Homo sapiens: one gene and its partner. The protein of the gene in region 1 interacts with the protein of each later gene in a pairwise test. Each region holds a gene or a part of one and is shown on either strand. Other genes may lie near its edges. The genes, in order: CSTPP1 and FH.

Evidence for each region.
Region 2: the proteins of CSTPP1 (region 1) and FH interact in binary tests that used the Homo sapiens proteins (3 or more experiments, as listed by UniProt).

Annotation. Positions count from the first base shown.
Region 1 is NC_000011.10:47,051,672-47,058,919, reverse strand, and holds part of CSTPP1 (centriolar satellite-associated tubulin polyglutamylase complex regulator 1), read right to left. Parts: intron 6,533-7,248; coding exon 6,402-6,532; intron 1-6,401. UniProt on the Homo sapiens protein: Regulator of the tubulin polyglutamylase complex (TPGC) that controls cytoskeletal organization, nuclear shape, and cilium disassembly by balancing microtubule and actin assembly.
Region 2 is NC_000001.11:241,496,886-241,502,786, reverse strand, and holds the end of FH (fumarate hydratase, mitochondrial), read left to right. Parts: intron 1-216; coding exon 217-344; intron 345-2,196; coding exon 2,197-2,350; intron 2,351-4,816; coding exon 4,817-4,959; 3' UTR 4,960-5,184; downstream 5,185-5,901. UniProt on the Homo sapiens protein: Catalyzes the reversible stereospecific interconversion of fumarate to L-malate. Experiments in other species have demonstrated that specific isoforms of this protein act in defined pathways and favor one direction over the other.

The DNA of each region.
Region 1 (7,248 bases):
TCTTCTCCTAGAATAAGAGCTCCTTGAGGGCAAGTATTGTCACTTACTCATTTGTATTTCCAGCCTGTCATGCAGTGTTGATGCATAACACGCTGAAGCAATAATACAGCCTGGAGTCAGACTTCATGGCTTCTCCTGGCATTGGCTTTTTCATTGACTGGGTGTGTGACCTACAGCAAGTTATTTAACATTCTAAATCTGTTTCATTTTCTATGCAAAGGAAATAATAGCATCTACCTAACACATAGGGTTGTTGTGAAGAAAAATGAGATAATCTACATAGAAGCACTTAATAAATGTTAATTGCTATTATTATCATTTTCACTATATTGTATTTTTCATGTCTAGAAATTCCATTTGGATCTTTTTAATATCTTCCACTAATCTCCTAATCATATTCATGTTTTCTTTACATACTTAAGCATATTTATATGATTTAAAATAACTATTTTAAGGTCCTTGTTAGTTAATTCCATCATCTCTGTCATTTCTGGATCTGTGTTTCTATTGATTAATTTTTCTCCTGGTTATGGGCTGTATTTTCCTGCTTCTTTTAATGTCTGGTAATTTTATTTTGTTTTGTTTTGTTTTTGAGACAGGGTCTTACTCTATTGCCCAGGCTTGAGTGCAGTGGTGCGATCACAGCTCACTGCAGCCTCAACTTTCCAGGCTCAAGCAATCCTCCCGCCTCAGCCATTAGAGTAGCTGGGACCACAGGTGTCACACCTGGCTAATTTTTTAAATTTTTTGTAGAGACAGGGTTTTGCTCTGTTGCCCAAGCTGGTCATGAACTCCTGGGCTCAAGTGATCCACTTGCCTTGGCCTCCCAAAGTCCTGGGATTGTAGGCATGAGCCACCATGCCTGGCCTGTCTGGTAATTTTGAATTGGATGTCAGACTTTGTGAATTTTGCATTGCTGAATGCTGGATTTTGTTAAATTCCTTTAAAGATTATTGAATTTTGTTCTTATATAGCATTAAATTACTTGCGGATCGATTTAATCCTTTTTGCTTTTAAACTGTTGAGAACTCTACCCAGTGCCCGGTGTGTTTTGAGGTCTCTTCCCTATGGCTGGTAGAAGTTTGAATTATCCTTAGCCCCTTGTATACTCCAGAAATTGTTTGGCCCACTGTTTTCTGGTGGTTCTTTTTCCAGCCCACACATATGCAGAATTTGTAGCCAAAGATTCTGGAGCTCACTGAACAACTTCTTCCTCTCTTGGATTCTGACCTGTAAATACTGGCTGCTCCAGCCTCCCTAAACCCCAGTCTCTGCCTCCTCAACTCAATAACACTGCTAAGCTCTTTGACAATCTCTCTCCCTATACTGTTGCTTGGAAACTGGCTCTCAGAATCCACAGCCCCCACTGCCTATTGCCCAATGTCTGAAAACTGTTGTTTCAGATATGCTGATTTTCTCATTGTTAGTGGCAAGAGGGCAATTCCCTTAGTAGATACTTCTTCACAGATAGAAGAGGAAGTACCTATCATTATTTTATCAAATGAAATATATATATGTATGTATGTGTATATATGTATATATTGAAAATTAAATTCTAATTGAAAATAAACTTGGAGAAGGCACTTTTGAGCCGATATCCCTAAACAGAAGTAAAGATTTACATTAAGAGAATATCAATCTTTGCCAGACTTAGAAAATTCAGATTAATATTCCTATACAGAAAAAATTAGCAAAGTGAGAAGTGTAATTTTAAAGGCTTTTAAAATTCTAATATAACTTTTGCTTCCAAGAGTCTAAAGTTGCTTAGATACCAAGAGGTTTGTTACAGTCTTCATGAGATTATCTAAAATTTGGACAAGATAATTAGCATCAGTACTCAGTCATGCAGAAAAGATATCATATCCTGTACTTGCTAAAAACTGGAATAAAATATTTTTTGTCAAAAGGGACCAGGTCCTTAGAGTTCTACAGGTGGCTTCATTTTTAGATATGTTATGCTCTTGTTTTGCTACCTCCCAGAAGAGTTACTTTCCACTTGATAATGCTAAAGTATGCACATGACATTCTAAGGAAGTTATCTGCAGAAGAATAATGCAGTAGGAGTTCCACTGAGTAGGTAGGTACCTGGCATTATAATTGATAAAATGGGGCTTAATAAATCCTTTCCTTTAGAACCTTGCCGCCAAGAGTTTTCACTAATTCCGGATTAAAATTGGAGATTGACACATTCTGGTTTAGAAAGATGTTCTGGAGTTTCCTAGAAAAAGCTGAGAATACATTAAAGCTACTTAACCAATTATTTTAGGAACACCTAGACACAGATGTTGCATTTAGTCTAAGAAATCTGAGGCTGTCTGATTAAGAAGGATAACAATAAACAGCCAGCATAAAATCTAGGTCTTGTTTATGGCACAAGGAGAAACTGGGGGAATTTGGAGCTGCTTATTCTTAGCAGCTGGATGAGTCACTGGCAGCTGCTATTAGAAAGATAAAGAAACCCACATCTGCTAAGAGTCCAAATGCTATATGAATCCCTCGTGATAGTAAATACATTCTTGAAGAGGCCCCACTTCTATATCAGGAAAAAAGTTAAGGCTATCTGAAGACTGTTTTCCATAGTTATCTCCATATGTTCTATCACAGAAACTAGCTCTAGCCATATTCTTCAACATGCAGCTGACCCTTGAACAACACAGGTTTCAGCTGTGCAGGTCCACACTTTTAGGTGGATTTTTTTCAACCAAATATGGATCGAAAATACACTATTCTAGGGATATGAAGCCCTGTATACGGAAGATTGACTTTTCACATATGAGAGTTCCACAGGACTAATGTAGGCCTTGATTATGCGTGGATTTTGGTATAAACAGGGGTCCTGGAACCAATCCCTGCATAGACTGAGAGACGACTGTACTAGGTGGTCTAAAACAAATATTTGCTGACTGAGTGAGGGACTGGGAAAGATAACCTCTGATAACATAGCACGAGCTTTACCTATATACTCACAGTTCCCAGTTTTGTTTACATAGAGACCAATGGAATAGTTTTTCTGAATTACTTAACTTAAAATTGAGTCCACATTGGTTTTTGCCTATTAGTGCATTTATTCTGTAAGGGAAATGATACGATCCTCAGTACACTAAGTACTTCTTTCATAATACTGTAATGGAGATGCATGATCTCCAGAGTTATATGTCAAAGAGGCAATGATTGAAGTAAAAATAGTAGAAATAGCACATCAGCATATTAGTAAATCTGGGTTCAATTTCTAGCTTTGCTACTAATTCACCATGAAATCTTTCTGCAAGTTACACAATTTCATTATTTACAAAATGGGCACAATAATACCCACTTTACCTATTTCTTAGGGCAGTGGAACTAATAAGATATTGGGTGGAAAAGTTTTAGAAAAGATTTAGTAACTACATATAAAAGTTTAATAGCTATATATTTAGTAGCTATTTAGAAAAGTTACAGTTTCGTAGCAGTAGCATTGATTAGAGCATGGTGGGGAATCTCATAAATTCAAAAGCAGGGAGACTACCTATTCACTGACTATAACCTCAGTGGGGAGGGGAGGGGAAGGAAGGAAGGGAGGGGAGGGAGGGAGGGGAAGGAAGGAAGGAACGAAGGAAGGAAGGCAAGAAAGAAGAAAGAAAAAGAAAAGCAAGCAAGCAAGAAATTGTCTTAAAGGTATTTATGAAAACACATAATATGAAAGTAGGAGACCAGGCATGGTAGCCCACGCCTATAACCCCAGCACTTTGGGAGGCTGAGGTGGACGAGTGGCTTGAGCCCAGGAGTTTGAGACCAGCCTGGATAACATAGCGAAACCCCAACTCTATAAAAAATAGAAAAATTAGCCACACATGGTAGTGCACAAATATATTCCCAGCTACTTGAGGTGGGAGGATCACCTGAGCTTGGAAGGTCGAGGCTGCAGTGAGCTGAGATTGTGTCATTGTATTCCTGCCTGGGTGACAGAGTAAAACCCTGTCTCCAAAAAAAAAAAAAAAAAAAAAAAAAAAAATTGAAATTTATTCTGTGGCTATTACTTGAAGGCTTTTAAAAAATATTCTTACCCAGTGGCCCAAGCCAAAAACTTGGAAATTACCACGGTCTTCTCTCTCATCTTAATGCCAAATCCAATCACCAAATCCTATGGATTCTATCTCTGAAAGTGCCCCTTCTGTCTCCATACTGCCTTAGTGTTGGGTCTAATCTCTCACTCAACTACTACCAGACTTCTATGTTCCTTGTCTCTAGTCTAGGCCATCTTCTACACTGCCTTTTGAATGATCTTTCTAGAGCTCAGATATCACCACACCACTCTCCTATCTAAAAGCCTTCAAATAAGATGGGGCATGGTGGCTCACATCTGTAATCCCAGTGCTTTGGGAGGCTGAGGCCTTGAGCCCAGGAGTTTGAGACCAGCCTGGGCCACACAGCAAAACCCCGTCTCTACAAAAAAATTTAAAATTAGCTAGGTATGGTAGGCATGTACCTGTAGTCCTAGCTAGTTGGGAGGCTGAGTTAGGAAGATCACTTGAGCCTGGAAGCTCAAGGTTATAGTGAACTATGATCATATGATCATGCCACTGCACTCCAGCCTGGGCAACAGGGTCTTTTTTTTTTTTTTTTTTTTTTTGAGACGGAGTATTGCTCTGTCACCCAGGCTGGAGTGCAGTAGCGCGATCTTGGATCACTGCAAGCTCCACCTCCTGGGTTCACACCATTCTCCTGCCTCAGCCTCCCGGGTAGCTGGGACTACAGGCACCCGCCACCACACCCGGCTAATTTTTTTGTATTTTTTAGTAGAGATGGGGTTTCACCATGTTAGCCAGGATGGTCTCGATCTCCTGACCTTGTGATCTGCCCGCCTCGGCCTCCCAAAGTGCTGAGATTACAGGCATGAGTCACCGTGCCCGGCTGCAACAGGGTCTTTAAAAAAAAAAAAGCCTTCAAATAATACCCAGAGAATAAAATTTAACTTTTTTGTTTGTTTGTTTGTTTTTTTGAAGCAGGATCTCGCTGTCACCTAGGCTAGAGTCAGTGGCATAATCATGACTCACTGTAGCCTCAACCTCCCTCAGCTCAAGTGATCCTCCCACCTCAGCCTCCCAAGTAGCTGTGAGTACAGGTATGTGCCACCACACCTGGCTAATTTTGTTTATTTTTTTGTAGAGACGAAGTCTCAGTATGTTGTCCAGGTTGGTCTCAAACTCCTGGGCTCAAGTGATCCTCCCACCTTGGGCTCCCAAAATGCTGGGATTACAGGTGTGAGCCACCACATCCAGCCCCAATTTCTTTTCTTTTCTTTTTTCTTTTTTTTTTTTTTTGAGGCAGAGTCTTGCTCTGTCGTCCAGGCTGGAGAGCAGTGGCACGATCTCGGCTCACGGCAACCTCTGTCCCCCAGGGTTCAAACGATTTTCGTTCCTCAGCCTCCTGAATAGCTGGGATTATAGGAGTGCGCCACCACACCTGGCTAATTTTTGTATTTTTAGTAGAGACGGGGTTTCACCATGTTGGACAGGCTGGTTTCAAACCCCTGACCTCAAGTGATCCACCTGCCTTGGCATCCCAAAGTGCTGGGATTACAGGCTGAGCCACTGTGCCTGGCCCAATTTCTTTTTTATGGCTAAAAAATGATCTTTCAGCAGCTCCATTATTCCTTTACAGTCTCATCTCCCCTAACCTCCTTCATAAACTCCACACAAACTCTAGACATCCTGATCTGTTATGTAAGTATTCTAGGTTCTTTTGTGCTTCAGCATATGTTCTACCTAGGATGCCCTTCTCTCCTTTATCCATGTGAATGATTCCTACTCTTCCTTCCCAGCTTAGATCAAACAGTCAGTTCTAAGGAGAACCTTCTCTACTCCACTTTTCTCTCCCTTCTCTAACAACAGTATCCCCATCCCACCCCCATTCAGGAGTTTCTTTCTTCATATTCACATTATTCCTTGTATTTACTGCATGGCATTTTAATATCTGCCAAGAGCAAGGGCTGTGAAGTCAGACTGCCTGGGTATAAATCTGGGCCCAGAATTTACTATGTAACCTTGCCAAGTTACTTAACCTCTCTGATCCTCAGTTTCATTAGTTACAAAATGGGGATTATGGTATCTACCACAGAGAGCCCTTGTAAAGATAAATGAGTTACTACATGTAAAGAGCTACACTTGGCTCTTAATAGGTACCATTAGTGATGGTAGTGGTAATAGTAATATCTTTGACATAAACCAGACAACTCCTCAAAAGTGAGGTATTCTAAATGCCTTGAATAGCATGCATTCAAACAATATTTATAGGAACAAAAGAAAAAGTTTGAAAGAGAAAGAGAGGAAAAGAGAGAGAGAAAGAAAGAGAGAGAGAGGAAGGAAGGAAGGAAGAAAGGAAGGAAGGAAGGAAGGAAGGAAAAAGAATTTGGGAAGACTTACCGCCATTTTTGCCCACAGTTCGGAAGCATCTCCAGAAGGCCCGTAAAAATGATACCCTATTGTGGGGGGTGGCTTGGACGAAGCTGAATTCTCGAAAGAGAATGTGTGTTCCCTGGCATACACTGTTAAAACTGCAAAGAGAAAAGTCAAGAAGTCATTGTTAGATGGAATCCAGAAGGCTGGAATCAGAATGAAAAATTGAGACCAGAGAGAACCACTGCCAAAAACGGGGAATTTTTCTCCCCAACAAAACTCTGAACTCTAGATTAGACCTAGTCCTTCTATGGGGAAGTCTCTTCATATAACCATACCTTTCCGAAAACTCTTGGAGGCCAGTTCCTCTGAGTGCTTCCCACCTTCCACAGGTACACACAGAGGACATCTGAATCAGTCATTCGAGCAACGCATATGGAGGAAAGCCTTTTAGCCTCTAACTGGATGACACTGGCACTCATATCTTTCTTTTTGGAGAATACTTTTCCCTCTACTGCATTTGGAATTAGGTTTCCTTAAAGATATTATTTCTGGGCTGGGCGCAGTGGGTCACGCCTGTAATCCCAGCACTTTGGGAGGCCAAGGCGGGTGGATCACTTGAGGTCAGGAGTTGGAGACCAGCCTGGCCAACATGGTGAAACCCTGTCTCTACTAAAAATACAAAAATTAGCTGGGCATGGTGGCGTGCACCAGTCATTCCAGCTACTCGGGAGGCTGAGGCAGGAGAATCACTTGAACCTGGGAGGTGGAGGTTGCAGTGAGCCGAGATCATGCCACTGCACTCCAGCCTGATCAACAGAGTGAGACTCAGTCTCAAAAAAAAAAAAAAAAAAGAAAAAAGATATTATTTCTG
Region 2 (5,901 bases), on another chromosome or scaffold:
TAATGTGTAGTTGTGGCTACTCGTTAGCCTTTGAATGATTCATTTTGTGGCTACCCATCCCACCTTCCTTGGTTGGTTTGTTTCATTAAATTACACTGATGGTTGGGCCTTGCTTTATTGTATATCTTACTCTATTTAGTGAAATTAGATTTCTTTATTCTCCTGATTATTTGCATAAATTTAGTCTTTACTCTGTCATTGGTGGTTTTCTTGAAGGCAAGGTGAACCCTACTCAGTGTGAAGCAATGACCATGGTTGCAGCCCAAGTCATGGGGAACCATGTTGCTGTCACTGTCGGAGGCAGCAATGGACATTTTGAGTTGAATGTTTTCAAGCCAATGATGGTAAGCTTTAAATCTGATTTTTAATGTTTTTTGACCAAAGGCTTATTATCTTGGTTTTGTATTTCATAAAGACTTCTAGTGATTCCACATTGGGTAGTTGGGTGACATAAGTAGCAGTTGGAAGTCAAGCATTTATTAAGTTACCAGAATAATCCTAGATAATAGAAATTAGTTGACTTTTAACCTAAGCAATTTGATGTTTTTTTTAATAGCCCGTTTAAGAAAAATAAAATGCCTCCCTACAAGCCTGTCTCCTTCTCATGCTGCTGCTTTCTTCTTCAAATTCAGTCTTCTTGGAAGGATAGCACATACTCACTTTCATTTATGCTGTAGTCACCACAGCCCAGCATGGCCCCCTCCACGCTTGAATTATTCTCCCATTCATTGGTGACTACCTCAGTCCAGCTGGCATTGCGCAGTTAGTTCTTCCCTTACTAATAGTTGATGTTGACTGTCCCTCCTTGAAACATTCTTCATCCCTGCTTTCTTGAACATTTTTTCACCAGTTCTTCTTCTGCCCCCTGTCAGACTTCGTTTCATTGTCTGGCTTTACCTTTCCACATACTTGAAAACATTGTGTCCACCCAAACCGTTCTTTTTCTTTCGTCTTTACGAAGATCGATAGATGCATCGCGCCATTTCTCATCAGTTTCCTCAGCTGCAGATAGTGGAGCTGTTGCCATAATTTAGAGTCCTTCATTTGGACAAAGTGTTATAGCTAAAGTAGAGTAGGGGCTTACTTTCTCTTGGAATCTCTTCTAAATTCTAATTTTAATTTTATAAGAATATGCAAATGACAAATATGGAGTATATTTAATATATTCACTAAATATTTATTGAGTACCATTTTCTATCAGGCACTGTACTGGATGCATAATAGAGATAGAGCAATGAAAAGACAGATTTCTTGCTCTCATGGAATGTATATCCTAGTGGTAAATAAAAACACAGGCCAGAGCAGAACTCAGACTGTTAAAATTTTGCTCTCAGGTCAGATTCCAAACAGTTAACACGAGATACCCAGCATTTATAGGTGCATAACAATAAATGCCTTGTTAATCTTTTTAAAATTTTATTTTTAATGTAAAATAAAGATAATCAATATTTGCCTTATTACAAGGTCATTAGTAGCAAATTAAAACTTAGATTATATGTCTTAGAGTCCATTGTTGGAAGTCTAGTTTTCAGACCGGAGTTTTAGACCAGAGGATATTAGGATTTGGATATATCTTAATAAATATTGGAAATGTTGCCAACAAAGCCAAAACAAACTAATTGATTTTATACTGTTTTTTAATATTATATGAAAAGTTATTTTACAGTGACTGGAGTATTCGTTAAAGCATAGAAAACCTAGAAATTTGGTGATCATTAGATTTTGCCCTGACTTTACTAATTGCCTCACACTCATACTGAACTTTCGAACCTCTGCATCTTTGCTCCTCTTCCTTCTGCGTGGAAGATTCTTTTTCCTTCTCTGGCCAAGTCCTCTCCATAAAATAGGATTTCACCAGTTCCGACAACTGGAGTTAATTTCTCTTTCTCTATGGTCTCTAACACTTCAGACCTCTGTTTTAAATACTTGCTATGGGCTATTTTGTGTTTTAGTCATTTGTATTTATGTCTTTTTCACCTTTTTTAGATTTCTGTGCCTTCAAATGTTCATGCTTTCTTTCACATTTGTTTCCTTGGTTATAGTGCCTTAAAATTTGTAGAAGATCTATATGTTTATTGAATTGTATATTTACTGTCAACCAGAAAATAATATGTTATTGGACAAAAAACATGTTGCCTTAGTAATGTCTCTCTCTCTCTCTCTCTCTCTCTCTCTCTCTCTCTCACTCACTCAAAGATTAAAAATGTGTTACACTCAGCCAGGCTGCTGGGGGATGCTTCAGTTTCCTTTACAGAAAACTGCGTGGTGGGAATCCAGGCCAATACAGAAAGGATCAACAAGCTGATGAATGAGTCTCTAATGTTGGTGACAGCTCTCAATCCTCATATAGGTAAGTGTTTAAGGAATAATAATATCATTTTGAATGCAAAATTAAAAAGCTAAACCATTTTTAAGAGACAAGTGGATCAGTGTTTGAGAACAGCAAATTTCTTTTGAATATGGTTTTAGTAAAATCTCAAAATATTTGAAATTGTGTGGAAAGGTACTATATAACTTGTATGGTGTCATAGTTCTTTCAAAACTAGATCTATTATGCCTCATTTTATTTGAAATGTATCGAGAAGTAGTAGTTCAAACTTATTTTGATTTTAATGGAATTCAGACGCCAAATATTCTATGCAGACCATTGGGGAAGGTTATTTGTAAGACCTTCAGTGGGTAATGTCACTAGGTGGCACTGCTGATTAGCAACATTGAATGAACTCATTTTTCTACCTTCCCTAGATCTCTACAATGCTTTAATTTTGTTGTTTTATTCAATTCAGAAATGGAAAGTTACAATTAAAAGAAAAAGTTTATGTATTCATTGCTTATAGTGAAAGGGAGGAAGGAAAATGCAAATATTTTGTCTAAAACCATGCTATTGTATTATAAGTCTTTTTTGGAACTGTAAATATTTCATTATGTAGAATCAAACATACAGATTTGGGTAGTAGACTGACCATAGAGATCTCCATTAAATAAACTGTTTACACTTTTGTAGATTTTGAGGCATTATGTTGCATTATATTATGATGTGTTAAAAGCCTTTTACCCATTCTTCCTTTCTGCTAAGCAGAGGTTAATATATTTTCTGCCTTTCTGTTATAGAACAAGTTATGATTCACTTATTTGGCATAATATGGCTACTGCTTCTTCTATAATCTTGAACTTTCAAGGCAAATTTTATATTCCTGGTTTCACATCAAGCTATAATTACAGTTTTTTAAAATTAGAGCTCATTTGACTCTTTTAGGTAGCTCTGAGCCCAGTATGATATCAGTTTTTTGGTGTGGCATTGAGATTGGTAATAATGTTTGATCCATTTAAAATTATGGTACATCAACTACATCTGGAAAAACACAAAGGGGAACCCAGAGGCTCGTGTGAGCAGTTTTCATCAGATCTTTACTTCAGAATGTGTTACCAAAACTTTAAATTAGAGGTGTCTCCTAAAGTTGAATGATTGGCAAATCTTTATTGGAATCAACTTATTGTGACATAAAAAGAATTGTTAGAGGCCATATGAGAATGAGATGGGTCAACACCACCTCACTAGTTGACTTGGTGTGAGCCTTACAACCCTCTGAATCATGGGTTCCCTATATTCTCATTATGTACCAGGCTGGTTGCCAATAGTGTCTTGTTGGACTTGACAGCTGAAATGCTTAGACTTTAAAGCCATTATTAAAATAAAAGTACTGGATATATATTGATCTCAAGAGTTTAACATGCAAATTCTTTCTCAAAGCATTTCTGCTTTAAGAAAGATGCCCTTTTCAGTAAATGGCATCAATAAATGCCCTTTCAGATCAATAAATGCCCTTTTCAACATATTTAGCATTCACAAATTCAGTTAAGTAATAAAAGTAACTATGCCCATGCTTTCTTTTATAGCTGATTAATAATTGCATATTGACACATGCCATCTTATTGATGATGTATACTGCCTCAGCAAGCTTCTTCCTTTTGGTCATATTTCTCTGATCTTGTTTTTTTTCTCCCGCATTGGTTTCATTTTCATTCCTGCTTTTTCTTCTTGACATATATATATATATATATATATATATATATATATATATATATATATATGTTAAGACAGCTTGCAGAACTGCCCTGCCCCCACTTTTATTAATTTGAAAAGCAAATAACTCTGAAGTAAACAGTATGCCTGTGATCTTTTGTGCAGTCTGTATTTCTGCCCAGACTCCCTATTTGTGTCCCTGTAATGTCTGGGAGGAGGCCAGGGTATAGAAGCCATTGCAGTGGAGAGCCACATAGAGAAGAGCCATTGGAAGCAGCTCTGGAGGCACCCCTCCCCAGGCCCTGCCTGCGCCTGCCTCACTGCGAGGACTTCTCCCCTCTCAGAGCCACTCACCACAGTTGCCAGACGTGCAGTGCTTTATTTTCTGCTGGACTGGAGCATTTAGCTTGTTAATGTTTCTTTAGAAAGATAATTGTTTCTAGTTAAACATGTTGTTTGAAAAATATACCCAGATGTATATTTTTATGTCGTGGTGCTATAATTTCTACTTTTTTCCCCTTCAAAATATCTAAGTTACTGGAAAATTTCAACTTAGGAACAAATCTGTTGGAGAAAGTGAGGTATGTTTAAGTGTTTATTTCTTAAGGAAAGTAAATGTTCTACATAAAAAATGATTATTGAGATAATCACTGTTAACTAATTTAAAAACAAAAAATGTCATTTAAGAGGCCCATATAGCATCAATATCAAGTAAACAATTATGTCACCTTTTGCTTTAGGAAACCAAATATCACTGCTAACCCATATGTCGTCTTTTTATTTTTTCTTCAGGGTATGACAAGGCAGCAAAGATTGCTAAGACAGCACACAAAAATGGATCAACCTTAAAGGAAACTGCTATCGAACTTGGCTATCTCACAGCAGAGCAGTTTGACGAATGGGTAAAACCTAAGGACATGCTGGGTCCAAAGTGATTTACATAAATTTATAATGAAAATAAACATGTATAAAATTTAAAAAAACAGACTCCCATTTCTTAAAAACGGATAAGTTTGAAAGGAAACTGCTATTGAACTTAAGCATCTCTAGCAGAGCAATTTGATCAGTATATAAAACCCTAGGATGTGCTAGGTCTAAGATGGATTAAACAAGTATAAAATAAAATACATTTATAAAATAAAAAGGAAAACAGACTTAAATTTTCTCCTATGTTAATTGACTTGTATTATAGTTGAATCTATGATATTTGTGCATGTTGTCTTTGTGACTTCATAAGTTACCAATTTCTAAAGGGTTTTAATTTTGGAGGTTATTGGTGGTTTAAAAAATTGCCCGATTATATCTTATTATCTCATTCCCAAACTATGTCCTTAGCCATCTTTTATTTTCCTTTGATTTGGAGACACAGTGACCAAGCCCTTTTGAGTGGGGATGTGTATATGTGTGTGTGTGTGTGCACGCACGTGTGTGTGTGTGATAGAATAGGTTAAGAAAATTGGGACATACATATCCTGTGTGTTAAACACACACCTATCCCTCCAACCTTGTTTCTGTTACCACAGAGGGACCAGATCAAGGCCAGGCATGGTGGGTCAGGGACACCGACTTTAGGAGACTGCGCTTTGGGAAACTGAGGCAGAAAGATCATTTGAGCCTAGGAGTTTGAGACCAGCCTGGGCAGCATAATGAGATCCCTATCTCTACAAAAAATAAAACAAAAATTAGGCAGGCTTGGTAGTGTGTGCCTGTAATCCCAGCTACTCAGGAAGCTAAGGTGGTAGGATTCCTTGAGCCCAGGAAGTTGAGGCTGCAGTGAGCCAAGATTGCACCCCTACACTCCAGCCTAGGTGACAGAGTGAGACCCTGTCTCAAAAGAAAAAAAACAACAAAAAGACTGGGTTAAGAATTACAGGACA